2 linked regions of the Homo sapiens genome follow. The protein of the gene in region 1 binds, or shares a complex with, the protein of each later gene. Each region holds a gene or a part of one and is shown on either strand. Other genes may lie near its edges.

Region 1 (7,394 bases):
AATAATCCTCCCACCTTGGCCTCCGAAAGTGCTGGGATTACAGGTGTGAGCCACTGCACCCAGCCCTCAGAGAGAGGTTTTTGTTTGTTTGTTTTGTTTTTGAGACAGTTTCACTCTGTCTCCCAGGCTGGAGTGCAGTGGCATGATCTCGGCTCACTGCAGCCTCTGGCTCCCGGGTTCAAGCGATTCCTGTGCCTCAGCCTCCTGAGCCACCATGCCCGGCTAATTTTTGTATTTTTAGTACAGCCGGGATTTCATCATGTTGGCCAGGCTGGTCTCAAACTCCTGACCTCAAGTGATCCGCCCACCTCAGCCTCCCAAAGTGCTAGGATTACAGGAGTGAGCCACCACGCCCGGCCTCCTCAGTTTAGAGACCCCTTCTCTCCCTGTTTTTTTTTGGGGGAAGAACCCCTCAGTGGCACCCTTCATCATGGCCTAGGAAACCGGGGCCCCAGAATGGGACCAGACTGCTCCCCATCACCGGTGCCTGGGGACGTGTTGTTCTGTAGGAACAGGGCTCTGCAGGGTGGCGCTTCTCGCTCTACCTTCGTTGGGTGGCTATGGTCCAAATCGCCAATAAGGCCTAGTGGAGCTTTACTTCTAATTCGTAGGAAGGCATCTCCCTCCCCTCACTTGTCCCCTAAGTTGAGGGCTGACCTGAAAGGCACATTTGGTGACAAAGTGTATCTCCGTGTTCACGCGCTCCAGCAAGCCTTGCATCTTGGACCCAGCGACAGTCTTGAGCCGCTCCATCCAGCGCTGTGCCAGGACCAGCCGCCAGAGGCCCCCGCAGAGCTCCTCCTAGAGGGGAGAACCCACGGGTCTGAGGGAGGAGCTGGGCACGGGGCTGCTGGGTCTGAGGGAGGAGGGGCTGGGCCGGGGCTCCTGGGTCTGAGGGAGGAGGGGCTGAGGACTCTGATTCCTGGGTTTGGGGAGGGGAGGGCCTGGTTATCCACTCGCCTCGGTGGAGCATCTTGAGTCTGTGGTCCCCACCTCCATCCCAGGTCCCTCCCAACATGACTTACGTCCTGCAGGTTGGAGGCCACGGTGACTGGGTAATCTTGAAGCAGGTAGTCAGACTGCGGGAGAAAACAGGATCAGGCCTGGCTGAAAACAGCGAGAAACAGAACTGTGGGGACCCAGAGGTGGCAGCAGAGATCCAGAGAGAGAGGGACAAGACCAAGAGAGGGGGAGCCCAGAAGAAGCCACAGAACCTTGCCCTTAAAAAGGGATGACACCCCTAAGCACAGTGGCTCACGCCTGTAATTCCAGCACTTTGGGAGGCCAAGGTGGGAGGATCGCTTGAGCCCAGGAGTTCAAGACCACCCTGGGAAACACAGGGAGAGAGACCCCATCTCTACTTAAAAAAAAAAGTGGGGGGAAGGGGGATCACATGAGGGGGTCCGGGGCAGCGCCGCTCACCAGCTCACGGATTTTGACAGCGAAGTCGGAGGAGATGGGGCTGTGTTGGAAGGAGCAGTCCTGGGTCCCACTGAGTCCCGAGCTCAGCAGCAGCAGCAGGAGGAGATAGGTCTGCAGGGGAGCGGGTGCTGGGGGAGCCCTCTGCTGTTCCACACACAGCCCCCTCCTCCGGGCTTCCCACCTGTACTGTTCTGTCTTCCCCGCTCCTCCTTCCCTGGGTGTCCTTCTGCCTCTTCCACACTTTCTGGAGACATGGCCCCATCTCTGCCTGTCTTTCCCGGTTTCTCTCTGCCTCTGGTCCAATGCTGTCCAGTTTGCATCCCCCTCTGCCCCACCCCTCTCTCTCCCCATCTCCCCCACTCTGCTGGTCTCTCTCCAACCACCTCATCTTCACGTCTGGTTTCCTCGCCCGGGTTCCTCCAGCTCTGTCCCTCCCTCTGCCTTCTACACCACTGTTGCCTGCTTCTCTCTTGATCTTGGTCCACGTCCTCTTCATTTGTTCTTGGCTCTGTCCACCTTCCCTCTCCTCTGTCCATCTCCCCCCTTTTCTGTCCATCTCCCCCTCCTCTGTCCATCTCCCCCCTCCTCTGTCTCTCTTCCTCTCCTCTGTCCGTCTCCCTCCTCCTGTCCACCTCCCCCTCCTCTTCATCTCCCTCTCCTCTGTCCATCTCCCCCTCCTGTCCATCTCCCCTCTCCTCTGTCCATACCCCCTCCTCTCCATCTTCCCTCCTGTCCATCTCCCCCACCTCTGTCCATCTCCCCCTTCTCTGTCCATCTCCCTCCTCCTGTCCACCTCCCTCCTCTTTATCTCCCTCTCCTCTGTTCATCTGCCCTCTCCTCTGTCCATCTCCCCCTCCTCTGTCCATCTCCCCGCTCCTGTCCATCTCCCACTCCTCTCTATCTCCCTCTCCTCTATCTCCCCCTCCTCTGTCCATCTCCCCATCCTCTGTCCATCTCCCCCTCCTCTGTCCGTCTCCTCTCCTATCCATCTCCCCTCACATCTGTCCATCTCCCCTCCTATTTCCTCGTCATCTGTCCATCTGTTCTCCCGTCCATCTCCCCTCATCTCTGCCCCATCCTGACATTGTGCCTCCCCTCTCCCCTGATCTTGTCCCTGGGGTTTACGCACTGTTGGGCTCCAGGCTGGCGCCAGCACTGTCATTTCGGCCGGGGGCCCCTCATGCCTCCTGTCGCCGGGTCTTGGAAGGGACAGAAGAACAAGTCTCGGACCCTCATGCCCCAGCCCCTGCCCTGCCCGCCCCTTTGCCTCCCCGCCCCTCCCGCGTCCCATTGATGTGGCTGAGTTTCCGCCCCTTCCTCCCCCAGGCTTCCTGCGTCTGCCCCAGTTACGGTGAAAACTCTTCATCTCCACTTCTAAGAACCTCGACGTCTGGTCCCCAGAACCCTCCCCAGGTTAGGGACCCGGGAACCCAGCCCCCCACCCTCTGCTCCCCCTGCCCCAGGAGTGGGGACCCTGGCTCCGCCCCTTGGGGACCTAGAGTCCAAGTCTCCTCACGCACCAGGCTTGCCCCAGTTGGGTGTGGAAGGGGCCAAGCCGGGTGACAGCCAGAGACCGAAAGTGAAAGGAAATTTTTGGGGGGAGACAGTCAAGGGGTGGAATCTGGGCCCAGGCGGAGCGCGCCCCCTGGTGGTGAGAGGCGGCCGCTCACGCCGCAGATGGCGCGTTCTCCGGACGCCCCGCAGCGGGGGCTGCAGTGGGGCTGACTCCCTGGGTGGCACGCCCAGTGCATGGTGAGCTGGGGCTGGAACCCGGATCTGTCTCTGGGAACTCGCAGTTGCTGTGTCTTACCGTCCTCCGGGCCCCAACTTTGCCCCGCCAAGGCTTGGCACACAGGACTCAGGATGCATCTTGTCACATTGGGCCTGGCAGGTGTCGCCCTAGCACTAGCTTTATCACTGTGGGAGCTTGGCCAGCCCCTTGACCTCTCTAAGCCTCGGCTTCTCCAACTCCAAACTGAGGGGTGAGGTGGTACATGAGACAAAATAGAAGCTCTCTTCCACATCTGTGGATCTCTGAATCTCTGAAGCATTTTTTTTTTTTAGATGGGGTCTCACTCTGTTGCCCAGGCTGGAGTGCAGTGGCACAGTCTCGGCTCACGGCAACCTCCGCCTCCTGGGCTTAAGCAATTCTTGTGCCTCAGGCTCCCAAGTAGCTGGAATTGCAGGTGCGTGCCACCATGCCCGGCTAATTTTTGTATTTTTAGTAGAGACGAGGTTTCACTATGTTGGCCAGGCTGATCTCGAACTCCTGACCTCAGGTGATCAGCCTGCCTCGGCCTCCCAAAATGCTGGGATTACAGGTGTGACCCATCACGCCCATCCTGAATCTCTTGCTCACCCATCTGATCCGTGGCAGACTGTCCTGAAACATCTGCTGCCCCCACCCCCCCAGCAGGAGGATTCGAGGTCCCATCCTGGGGAACTCGGACATGGCCACACTCACTTTGGCCAGTCACATGAGGGTGGAGGTGACAGGTGTCACTTCTGAATGGAAGTCTAAGGGACCGGGGAGTGGATGGTGGAGGATGCATGGAGAGAGCGCCTCTATCAGCCAAGTTTCCTGTGCCACTCGGAGGAGCACAGGGATCCTGCCAGCCCCGGATGAGCACAGGGAGTGTAAGCAACAAACTAATGTTGTGGTTGTGGCCCACGCAGATTCGGGGGTTATGTGTTACTGCAGCAAAGCCTCGCCCGTCCTGGCCTTCATCATCCATTTCCCTTCCCTGATCCCTCTGCCTGCCTCACTTCCTGTTCAGCCTGGGTTAGCTGCCTTGTCGCACCCAATGGTCAGACCTTCCATCTGGCTAGAAAGATTTAAATGAAGCAGAGAGGCAGAGATACAAGCCCCAATAGCTCATGTGGCCCATGGACAAAGGACCTGCTCTAGCTCCTTCCTGACCAAGTCCTGGGGCCCCTCAATGTGTGTCCTGCCCTATCGCCCTATTGCCTCTAGGGAATCTCTGTAGCCTTCCAGAAGACTCCTCTCTCTCTCTCTTTTTTTTTTGAGACCGAGTCTCGCTGTGTTGCCCAGGCTGGAGTGCAGTGGCACGATCTTGGCTCACTGCAAGCTCCCCCTCTGCCTCCCAGGTTCAAGCAATTCTCCTGCCTCCCAGATAGCTGGGATTTCAGGTGCCGCCACCACGCCTGGCTAATTTTTATAATTTTAGTAGAGACGGGATTTCACCATGGTGCCCAGGCTGGTCTCAAACTTCTGACAAGTGATCCACCCACCTCGGCCTCCCAAAGTGCTGGGATTACAGGTGTGAACTGCCACACCTAGTCCGGAAAACTCTCATTTTTTTTTTCTTTGAGATGGAGCCTTGCTCTGTTGCCCAGACTAGAGTGAAGTGTGTGCTCTCAGCTCACTGCAACCTCTGCCTCCTGGGTTCGAGTGATTCTTCTGCCTCAGCCTCCTGAGTAATTGGGATTACAGGTGCCCGCCACCACACCCAGCTAATTTTTGTATTTTTAGTACAGACAGGGTTTCACTGTGTTGGCCAGGCTGCTCTCAAACTCCTGACCTCAGGTGATCCGCCTACTTCGGCCTCCCAAAGTGTTGGGATTACAGGCCTGAGTCACCGAGCCTGGCCTCTGAAAACTCCCTTTTATCCTAAACTAGTAAGAGTGGGTTTCTTACATCAAAAAGAATTCTACTTCAGGTGTGGTGGCTGATGCCTGCAGTCCCACACTTTGAAAGGCTGAGGCGAGAGGATCGCTTGAGGCCAGGAGTTCAAGACCAGCCTGAGCAACGTAGGTAGACTCTGCCTATTAAAAAAAAAAAAATTAGCCAGGCATGGTGGTGCGTGCCTGTGGTCCCAGCTGCTCAGGAGGCTGAGGTGGGAGGATTTTTTTTTTTTTTTTTTGAGACGGAGTCTCACTCTTTCGCCCAGGCTGGAGTGCAGTGGCTCGATCTCGGCTCACTGCAAGCTCCACCTCCCGGGTTCACGCCATTCTTCTGCCTCAGCCTCCCAAGTAGCTGGGACTACAGGCGCCCGCCACCATGCCCAGCTAATTTTTTTGTATTTTTAGTAGAGACGGGGTTTCACCGTGTTAGCCAGGATGGTCTTGATCTCCTGACCTCATGATCCACCTGCCTCGGCCTCCCAAAGTGCTGGGATTATAGGCGTGAGCCACCACGCCCGGCCGAGGTGGGAGGATTGAGCCCAGGTCGAGGGTGGGTTCAGTAAGCTGTGACTGCGCCACTGTATTACAGCCTAAAAAACAGAGCAAGATCCTTTATTTAAAAATCAACAGTCGTGCGCAGTGGCTTAAGTCTGTAATCTTAGCACTTTGGGGAGACCAAGACAGGCGGACCGCTTGAGGTCAGGAGTTTGAAACCAGCCAGGCCAAGATGGTGAAACCCCGTCTGTACTAAAAATACAAAAAATTATCTGGGTGTGGTGGCGCGAGCCTGTAATTCTAGCTACTCTGGAGGCCGAGGCAGGAGAATCGCTCGAACCTGGGAGGCGGAGGTTGCAGTGAGCCGAGATCACCCCGCTGCACTCCAGCCTGGCCGACAGAGAGACTCTGTCTCGAAAAAACAAAAAACAAACCAAAAAAACCCACCCACAACCAGAATCCTAAGGCAGTGGTGTGCTGAAGCGGCTCGTATTGGCTCATGGGAGCTGACCTGTTAACAATTCAGGATCTCGCAGGCAGTTGTTTAATCACCTGTACCTTGAAATCCGGCACGGTGGGAGCATTTACATCATGGAAATTGACAAAAGTCATATAGGAGGACTTTAATTTTATTCCAGAGAGTTCCTTTACTGCATATGGATTCTGGGGCCATGAAAAGGTAGAGAAAACCAGAGAGCAAGAGCCACCAGATGGAGAAGACAAGAAGATATGAGAGTCCTAAGGCCCTGTCTGGGGTCCTCGGGGGTCCCCTTTCTCTGTTTCACAAACACAGCACCGTGCTGGAGCCGGCTCCTGAGCTGCTCAACCTCAGAACTAAAATGGCCTCGAGCCAGGTGTGGTGGTGCATGTCTGTGGCCCCAGCTACATATGAGGCTGAGGCATGAGGATCCCTTGAGCCCCAGAGGTCGAGGCTGCAGTGGGCCGAGATTGTGCCACTGCGCTCCAGCCTGGGTGACAGAGCCAGACGTTGTCTCAAAAAAAAAAAAAAAAAAGAAAAAAGCCTCATATCTGCCAGAAGTTGCTACACCCTTTCTTCTCGCAGAAGCACAGCTAGGGTTGGTCAGAGAGTTTATTGGGAGACACAGGAACCAGAAGGGGAAAGTCCCAGGTGTCTGTGGGGTGCATCTCCCCTTGGTGTGAGGTGTCCAAAATGCAGTAGGTGGCGCTCAGGCATCAGTCCCCCATAGGCAGCCACAGGGCCTTGGTCCGCGCCACTCGCAGCCCCAGCTCTGGGCCTGCCCCCTCGGCCTCCTGGTCCCAGGCCCGCGGGCAGCCCCTGCTCGCCCACACCGGTTTGAGGTTTCCTGCCGAGGCCCACTCGACAAACTGGGAACCCTGAGGGGAGGAAGAGACGGGGGTAAGCACTTCTGCAGGCTTGTTGCTGAGCACCTGCTTCCTCCGCGATGAAGACTGTTACTGACGAGGGGCTTCAGGCTGGACCCAGGCTCTGCAGCTACAATGCCCAGCTCCTCCCAAGCAGAACTTCCAGATGGTAGGGAAAAGCACTGGACCCAGTGGTTAGGGAATTTCCTCTCCCTTAACAGCCCATGTTGAAAGGAATGGGCCCCAAGGCTCTTGTCAACAAGTTCACATCTGTTACCAACAGGAGGTTTAAGAGAGTGGACGGTGGGGCGCGGTGACTCGCTCCTGTAATCCCAGCACTTGGGGTGGCTGAGGCGGGAGGATCGCTTGAGTTCAGGAGTTTGAGACCAGCCTGGACAATATGGCGAGACCCCGTCTCCATTTAAAAAGTAAAAATTGGTTGGGCACAGTGGCTCACGCCTGTAATCTCAGCATTTTGGGAGGCTGAG
Region 2 (7,521 bases), on another chromosome or scaffold:
GGTGTGTCAGGTAACTGTAGCTCATTCATTTACACTGTTATTTAATATATAGGTATTTTATTATGACTGTACTGCAATTTATCCTTTTGTTGGTGGGCATTTAGATTGTTCCCAATTTTTTGATATTATAAACAATAATGCTATGAACATTCTTATACTTGTCTCTTGGCACATATGTGTTTCTTTGAGGTTTATATCTGGGGGTGAAACTGCTGGCTGGAGGATATGTTCAACTTTAGTAAGATATGCCAAATTATTTTTCAAAGTGCTCACACCCATTGGGATGTCCACCAACAGTGTGTGGGTGTTCTCCATTGCTCTGAATTCTTGTCAACACTTTGTATTGTCAGATTTTGCCAATTGGTGAGTTCAAAGCCCCTATTAATAAAAGATGTGTAAAATTATACTATAAAGTTGATATCTCAACTGAACTCACATGAACCCTATTCAAATATTCCTTTTGTTTGTCCCTGATTTTCAGGAAAACATAAGGCTTTGTAAGTTAAAAATGACATGAAAGTATTTCACCTGTGAGCTGCTACGAAACTATGTCACAATTTTTGGAGAGAGAGAGGAAAGGGAGAGGAGATATTTGTGTGACTTAAGGGGTGGAAACATGGTATCAAGATGCTGGTAAGATAGATGACCACTTACTCATGGCTAAGCATCATGGTGCTAAGAATCTAGATAAAATACATCCTTTCGTAGAGTTAGCACTAGACACTCCATTCAACCCAGAAACAAACTTACTCTTCTCTTTTCCGATTTCCCGTTTCAGCTCATTTCTTCTAGTTGCTTTTGACCCTTTAAGAGTTTCTTTATTACAGAATTCCTATCATGAACTCTGACACCAAAATTTCATACTTGGGCATGCATACCTGGGCGTGTAATCCAGGACTCTAGACAATTTCAGGCTACTTTCCTTAAGTGTTGCTGTGAGGAAGAAATTAGTTCTCATATTAGATATGACTCTTGGCACATCACAGAAAAACATGGGCATTACTTCACCTTCTGTTAGCCTATACCTCATACTCCAAAATATTTCAGTCTATAAGATTTGCTCCTTCTAGAATTATTTTTTCCACCAATTTCCACGGAAAATCAAGTGTTCCTAGAAACCATTCCTGGCTGGCCGCGGTGACTCACACCTGTAATCCCAGCACTTTGGGAGTCCAAGGAGGGTGGATCACGAGGTCAGGAGTTTGAGACCAGCCTGGCCAAGATGGTGAAACCCTTCTCTACTAAAAATACAAAATTAGCTGGGCGCAGTGGCGGGTGCCTGTAATCCCAGCTACTCAGGTGGCTGAGGCTGGAGAATCGCTTGAACCCGGGAGGCGGAGGTTGTAGTGAGCCTAGATCGTGCCACTGCACTCTAGCCTGGGCGACAGAGCAAGACTCTGTCTCAAAAAAAGAAACCATTCCTAACTTCTCCTCTCTCACCAACCCCCTTTTTCATGAAGATCTCTGCCTTGTGTCCAAGATTCTTGGACAAAGCAGCAGTATCTTTATGATTTTGTATCCTGAATACTGCTGCACTCAAGCTGATGTTCTGCAAATTTGTAATAATCAGTTTCATTTTTTTTTTAGTTTTTCATTTTATTTATTTATTTTTTTGAGACGGAATCTCCCTCTGTCGCCCAGGCTGGAGTGTAGTGGCGCGATCTTGGCTCACTGCAACCTCCGCTCCCCAAGTTTAAGCAATTCTCTGCCTCAGCCTCCTGAGTAGCTGGGATTACAGGCGTATGCCACCACGCCTGGCTAATTTTTTGTATTTTTAGTAGAGACAGGTTTCACCATCTTTGCCAGGCTGGTCTTGAACTCCTGACCTCGTGATCCACCTGCCTTAGCTTCCCAAAGTGCTGGGATTACAGGCATGAGCCACTACGCCCGGCGAAGACCAAGTCTTGCTCTGTTGCCCAGGCTGGAGTGCAGTGGCATGATCTCAGTTCACTGCAACATCTGCTTCCTGGGTTCAAGCAATTCCCCTGCCTCAGCCTCCCAAGTAGCTACGACTACAGTGCCACCATGCCCAGCTAATTTTTGTATTTTTGTTAGAGATGGGGTTTCACCATGTTGGTCAGGCTGGTCTCCAACTCCTGACCTCAAATGATCCACCCGCTTTGGCCTCCCAAAGCGCTGGGATTGCAGGCATGAGCCACAGCGCCCAGCCAATCAGTTTCCTTTAAGACAGTAATTGAGCTTTAAATAGAAGGTAGTGTGTTAGGTCTTGGCCATTGGAAGCTCGCTTTTCTCCCCATAACCAGCCTGTTTCATTGCTTTATCTCCTCATGTTTCACTTATTTCAGGCCATCTTCCTTCACTTCTGTTTCTGACCTAAGGTAGACACAACACTCTTTAAAAAAATTTTTAAACCCCCAGCAGCTACACAAAAACTTAAAAAATTTAAAATTGAGGTAAAATACACATACATAAAATTTACCATCTTAACTTTTTGTTTTTGTTTTTGTTTTTGAGACAGAGTCTCACTCTGTCACCCAGGCTGGAGTGCAGTGGTGTGATCTCAGCTCACTGCAGCCTCTGCCTCCCGGGTTCCAGTGATTCTCCTGCCTCAACCTCCCAGGTAGCTGGGATTACAGGCATGCGCCACTACGCCTGGCTAATTGTTGCATTTTTGTAGAGATGGGGTTTCACCATGTTGGCTAGGCTGGTCTCGAACTGCTGACCTCAGGTGATCTGCCCACCTCGGCCTCCCAAAGTGCTAGGATTACAGGCATGAGCCACCGCACCCAGCCTTAGCCATTTTTAAGTGTACAGTTTAGTAGCGTTAAGTACATTCACATTGTTGTGCAACCAGTCTCCAGAACTCTGCTCATCTTGCAAAACTGAAACTCTGTATCCATTAAACACTGGCTCCCCATTTCCCCCTGCCCCCAGCCCATGGTAACCACCATTTAACTTTCTGTCTTTATGAATTTGTAATGGGATACAGTATTGTATTTTTTGGGACTAGCTTATTTCACTTAGCATAATGTCAAGATTCATCCATATTTTAGCTGTATCAGAATTTCCCTCCTCTTTAAAGCTGAAAAATACTCAGTCGTATGTATATACTGCATTTTTGTTTATCATTCATCTGTTGTGGACATGGGTTACTTCTGCCTTTTGACTACTGTGAATAATGCTGCTTTCAACACGGGTGTACAGACATCTCTTCAAGACCCTGCTTTCAATTCTTTTGGCTACATGGCCAGAAATGGAATTGTTGGACCGTATTTTTTTTAATTTTTTGAGAAACCTCTATAGTGTTTTCCATAGTGGCTGCACCATGGTAGACACTTCTAAAGTTTCTGCCATACCCTAGGGGAAAGAATTATTGTACTGTAGACAACATCTAAGGAAAAGAACTGTATGGCCAAGAGTAAACAGTCAATTTTCATGCTTTATTAGAAAATAATTAAAATAATTAAGAGCGTGGAATTCCTAGAATTGGGAGAGACATTATGAACCATTTGGTCCATCCCTTTCCTTTACGATGAGTAAACAGAGGTTTGTGGAGGTCAAACGGCTAGTTAAGTAAGGGAAGAACCAGAACTGGCATCCAGAGCTTTCCAATCCTCAACTTATTGCAAAGAAAATAATAATAATTTTCAACTCGAAAAATTATGCGATGAAGAACAAGAACTATTGAGCGGATGATTCGCAACATCCTCTGGGATGTATTTTCTGTGTGTTTTGTTTTGAAGGCTGTTTGTTAACCTCCCTAATTGCCTTGGTTGACATTGAAACCCTGCCTGTTTTTCTTGATCCCGCCGCTGACTGGGTCCTGAGCATCCTAGGAGATGGAGGCAGAGACAAAGGAAATCAGTCCACAATTAAGAATGGAATGGTTCTTAATGGAATGCTCGCCTGTGCGCTGGCGGGAGTTGCCAGCGTGCCGAGCGGATTCAGCGCCTTTCTCAGGGCCTCAAAGATCCCAGCGCACTAGGAGGGTGGTTTGTGGCTCCCTGCAGTCCCCACGCCCCGGATCCAAACGACAGAGTTCGGGGACTCACAGGGGCAGCAAGGCGGCAGAGCCGCGGAGCCAGTGCAACTTCTCCGGCGGGACCGCGCCCAATCTTCCCCGCCGCAGTCGGGGAGCCCCGGGGGCCGCCGAGCACAGGCTGCGGACCGCGGCGGGCACGTGGGCTCGGCTGCAGCGCTGCGCCAGGCACCGGCTGCTCGGCTCTGCCCAACCTCTCCGCTCCCGCCTCGGTCCCTGCCTCTGGGGAGAGGGTTCCTCCCCCCTTCCACTTTGCACCAGTCCGAGGGAATTTGCGGTCGGTGACGCGCATCCTTAAGAGAGCCACCTGCAGCGCGAGGCGCGCCGCTCCAGGCGGCATCGCAGGGCTGGGCCGGCGCGGCCTGGGGACCCCGGGCTCCGGAGGCCATGCCGGCGTTGGCGCGCGACGGCGGCCAGCTGCCGCTGCTCGGTAAGGCCCCGCTCGCTCGCTCGCAGCCCCTCGCGGTCCCTCAGCCCCCACCCCGCAGTGTGGACCCGGGCGCGCGCCTCCTCCGGCCCAGCCGCCTCGCTCCTCCCCGCGCTCGCTCCTTCCATTGCCTCCCGCGCCCCTCCCCTCTTTCGCGCCCTCCGGACTCGCCCACTACTTGCCTGCGGCCCCGGCGTTTCCCACCCCGCGTCCTCTTCCCTCTTCTCCGAAGTCTCTCCTCTGGCTCGGGCCGCGGTCCCGAGTGGCGGCCCGGACTTCGCAGACGGCCTCGCCGAGGCGCTGCGCCGGGTCTGGGGCAGCTCGGCCCGCGCGCTCGGGTGCTGGGCCGTCCGTGGGAGTCTGCGGCCGCGAACTCGGCGCCAGGTGGCCAAGGACCTCTCCTGGCCCGGCCCTTGGATACTGTAGACACCTGGGTGTCGTCTTTAACTCTTCTTTTGAGGTTTTGATTTATGGAGGGAACTCTGATGGGAAAATGCGTCCGCGTTCTCCCCTAGAGCGAGTCATCCTCAATAACGATACCCCCCAGCCCCGCCGAATTTTGGTTGGATCAACGAATAGTTTACCTAGGAAATATTATGCAAACAGATTTACATATTAAAATACTAGCTGTCCCTTTCTTCTAGTCTCTTCTTATCCTGGCATAAACCCCAAAGGGGTTTTCAAGGACTCCGAGGACTGTCCCCAAAGAATCTGCTGGGTAGCATAGTTGTTATTGAAAAAAAAAATCTTCCCATCGGTTCGCGTCAGCTTTCTATTTGGAAAGATGAGAGGACTGAATCGAATTTGGGTTGAAGGCGACAGAGTTCTGGGTGCCCGGCAGCTCCGGTCCCTGTCCTAGGTCTGCAACCTTGGGACTGACACTCACCTCCCCCGGCCTCCGCGTCCTCATCTGTGCAGTGAGGGAGTCCGTCCGAGTCCCCTTCAGCTCTGAAATGCTAGGACTTGAAGTCTCTGTGGTAAATAGAGAAAATGCTTGCAATATAGAAGTGCAGGAATTATATCCAATAGCTTTTGTTACAAATAATTCTGAAATATAAAAAGTAAAAAATGGAAATCGGGGGAAAAGAGTTGAAAAACAAAGACATTTTAGTTCTTAAATAGTTATCTTTACTAGTTAGTAAATCTGTAATTTCAAATGTGTAGTACAATATGTTTTCCAGATTCCGTTAATACAAAATGTTAGCTTTCTATTATGTATGATATTAAGTAGTAAGTGCATTTTTCAGAAGCATAATGGGCTTTCTAAAGGTATAAGCATCAATACTTGCAACGATATTTAAGCTGCATGGAATTCTTTTCTATTTAGGAAAGAATTCAGAAATTTCTATGTCTCTCTCTCCAGATATTTCTAAATGAAGTATAATTGGCACACAGTAAATATGCACACATCTTAAGAGTACAATTTCATTAGTTTTCACATATGTACGTGCCCAAATAACCACGATCAGACTGAGATATAGAGCAATTCTAGCTCCACCCTCTCTGTCAGTACCCCCTCCCCAGGTAGCCACTATTCTGACTTCTGATGCCATGGATTGCTTTTGCCTATGTTTGAACTTCATGTAAACCAAACCATCATCGTGTGCTCTTTTATGTCCACCTTCTTTTACTCAACATTATAATAATAAGATTCAACCTTGTTCTCTGTAGCAGTGTTTTTTTTTTTAATTGCTGGTACCATTCCGTGGTATGAATAGATCTTATAATTTATTTTATCCATTATGTTCACGAAGCACATGGAAGTTGTTCCAATTTTGTGTAATTATGCATAGCACTGCTGTGAACATTGTTTTATATATGGTGGACATAAACACCAGTATAAAGGATTATGCCCACAAGTAGAATTCCTGGATCATAGGGAAGGGATATGTTCAGGTTTGGTAGATACCGTCAAACGGTTTTCCACAGTGGTTACACCAATTTCCACTCCCACTAGCAGTGTATGGCAGTTCCAGTTCCTCACATCTTTGCCAATACTTTGTATTATGGATTTTCTTGAATAAAGAAGGATAAAGTGAGAAGCTTAAACATGAGAACTTTAAAATGGTTAATAGCCTTAAATTCTTTGAATTAGAACATGGGATCCCAATTTCCCTTATATTGTAAACACTACTTTTTTTTTTTTTTTTTTTTTTGAGACGGAGTCTTGCTCTGTCACCCAGGCTGGAGTGTAGTGGCGCGATCTCAGCTCACTGCAACCTCCGCCTCCCAGGTTCAAGCGATTCTCCTGCCTCAGCCTCCTGAGTAGCTGGGATTACAGGTGCGTGCCACCGCACCCAGCTAATTTTTGTATTTTTAGTAGAGACGAGGTTTCACCATGTTGGCCAGGCTGGTCTCGAACTCCTGACCTTAGGCGATCCACCCACCTCAGCCTCCCAAAGCGCTGGGATTACAGGTATGAGCCACCACACCCGGCCATGCCCAGACTTCTATTCATCATTTATGAATAATGATGAAGCTTTCTAAGTGGCATTTGAAGGAGAGGAACATGTTCCCAATGGGCTTTTCTGCATTATCTGCTGATACTGGACAGAGAGAAGTATTTCAATATTTTAAGAGCTATGATACTACCTTTTTCATTAGTGTTAAAAAAAATTCGTATTCAAAGCCTTGAACTGCACATTTGAGTTGCCATTCTTTGCTCTTGTTGCTTATCTTAGTTTATTTGCCTTCTTGGAAACTCCTAGCCCAAGGGGGAATGATTCAGGAGAAAGTGGAGGGAAGGGACACTCAGCAAAGCTTGGTTTGGATTGGATGTGAGCCCAGACCTGCCGACCTGACATTAATGTCCCCTCTGACTCTGAAACTCTAGTTCTAATTTTTGCCATTATATAGGTGTAGATTGGATATTCATTTCTTTTTAGGTACTTCACGTCTATCTATAGTAAATTATCCTCTTAGGTTTAATTGTGAACTTCTTGCCTTACATTAAAAATGGATTAACTTTTTATAACTAAGAAGGCACTTTCAGTAACTCTTAGCTATTGGTAAATATTTGTTATTGGATTCTCCTGTTGTTTAAACTGAAAAACAATCAGGCAATGAGATATTAAATGGGAAGGAGGAAGACTTA

The links.
Region 2: the proteins of FLT3LG (region 1) and FLT3 are in contact, whole or in part, in a crystal structure (PDB 7QDP), measured with the Homo sapiens proteins. Residues at the interface, in NP_001191431.1 of Homo sapiens: His34, Ser35, Pro36, Ile37, Ser38, Ser39, Asp40, Lys44, Lys87, Glu99, Asn102, Thr103, Glu104, His106, Phe107; in NP_004110.2 of Homo sapiens: Asp180, His279, Gly280, Phe281, Gly282, Met300, Ser301, Thr302, Tyr303, Asn306, Arg307, Met309, Arg311, Ser333.

Annotation. Positions count from the first base shown.
Region 1 is NC_000019.10:49,469,830-49,477,223, reverse strand, and holds the start of FLT3LG (fms-related tyrosine kinase 3 ligand isoform 1 precursor), read right to left. Parts: upstream 3,010-7,394; 5' UTR 2,943-3,009; intron 2,862-2,942; exon of another isoform or gene 2,773-2,861; intron 2,639-2,772; exon of another isoform or gene 2,622-2,638; 5' UTR 2,585-2,621; coding exon 2,552-2,584; intron 1,551-2,551; exon of another isoform or gene 1,534-1,550; coding exon 1,423-1,533; intron 1,108-1,422; exon of another isoform or gene 1,080-1,107; coding exon 1,026-1,079; intron 802-1,025; coding exon 658-801; intron 1-657. Other genes in the region: ALDH16A1 (aldehyde dehydrogenase family 16 member A1), read right to left, coding at 6,757-6,918. UniProt on the Homo sapiens protein: Stimulates the proliferation of early hematopoietic cells by activating FLT3. Synergizes well with a number of other colony stimulating factors and interleukins. Required for the development of B cells, and dendritic cells (DCs).
Region 2 is NC_000013.11:28,097,377-28,104,897, reverse strand, and holds the start of FLT3 (receptor-type tyrosine-protein kinase FLT3 precursor), read left to right. Parts: upstream 1-4,321; 5' UTR 4,322-4,387; coding exon 4,388-4,430; intron 4,431-7,521. UniProt on the Homo sapiens protein: Tyrosine-protein kinase that acts as a cell-surface receptor for the cytokine FLT3LG and regulates differentiation, proliferation and survival of hematopoietic progenitor cells and of dendritic cells.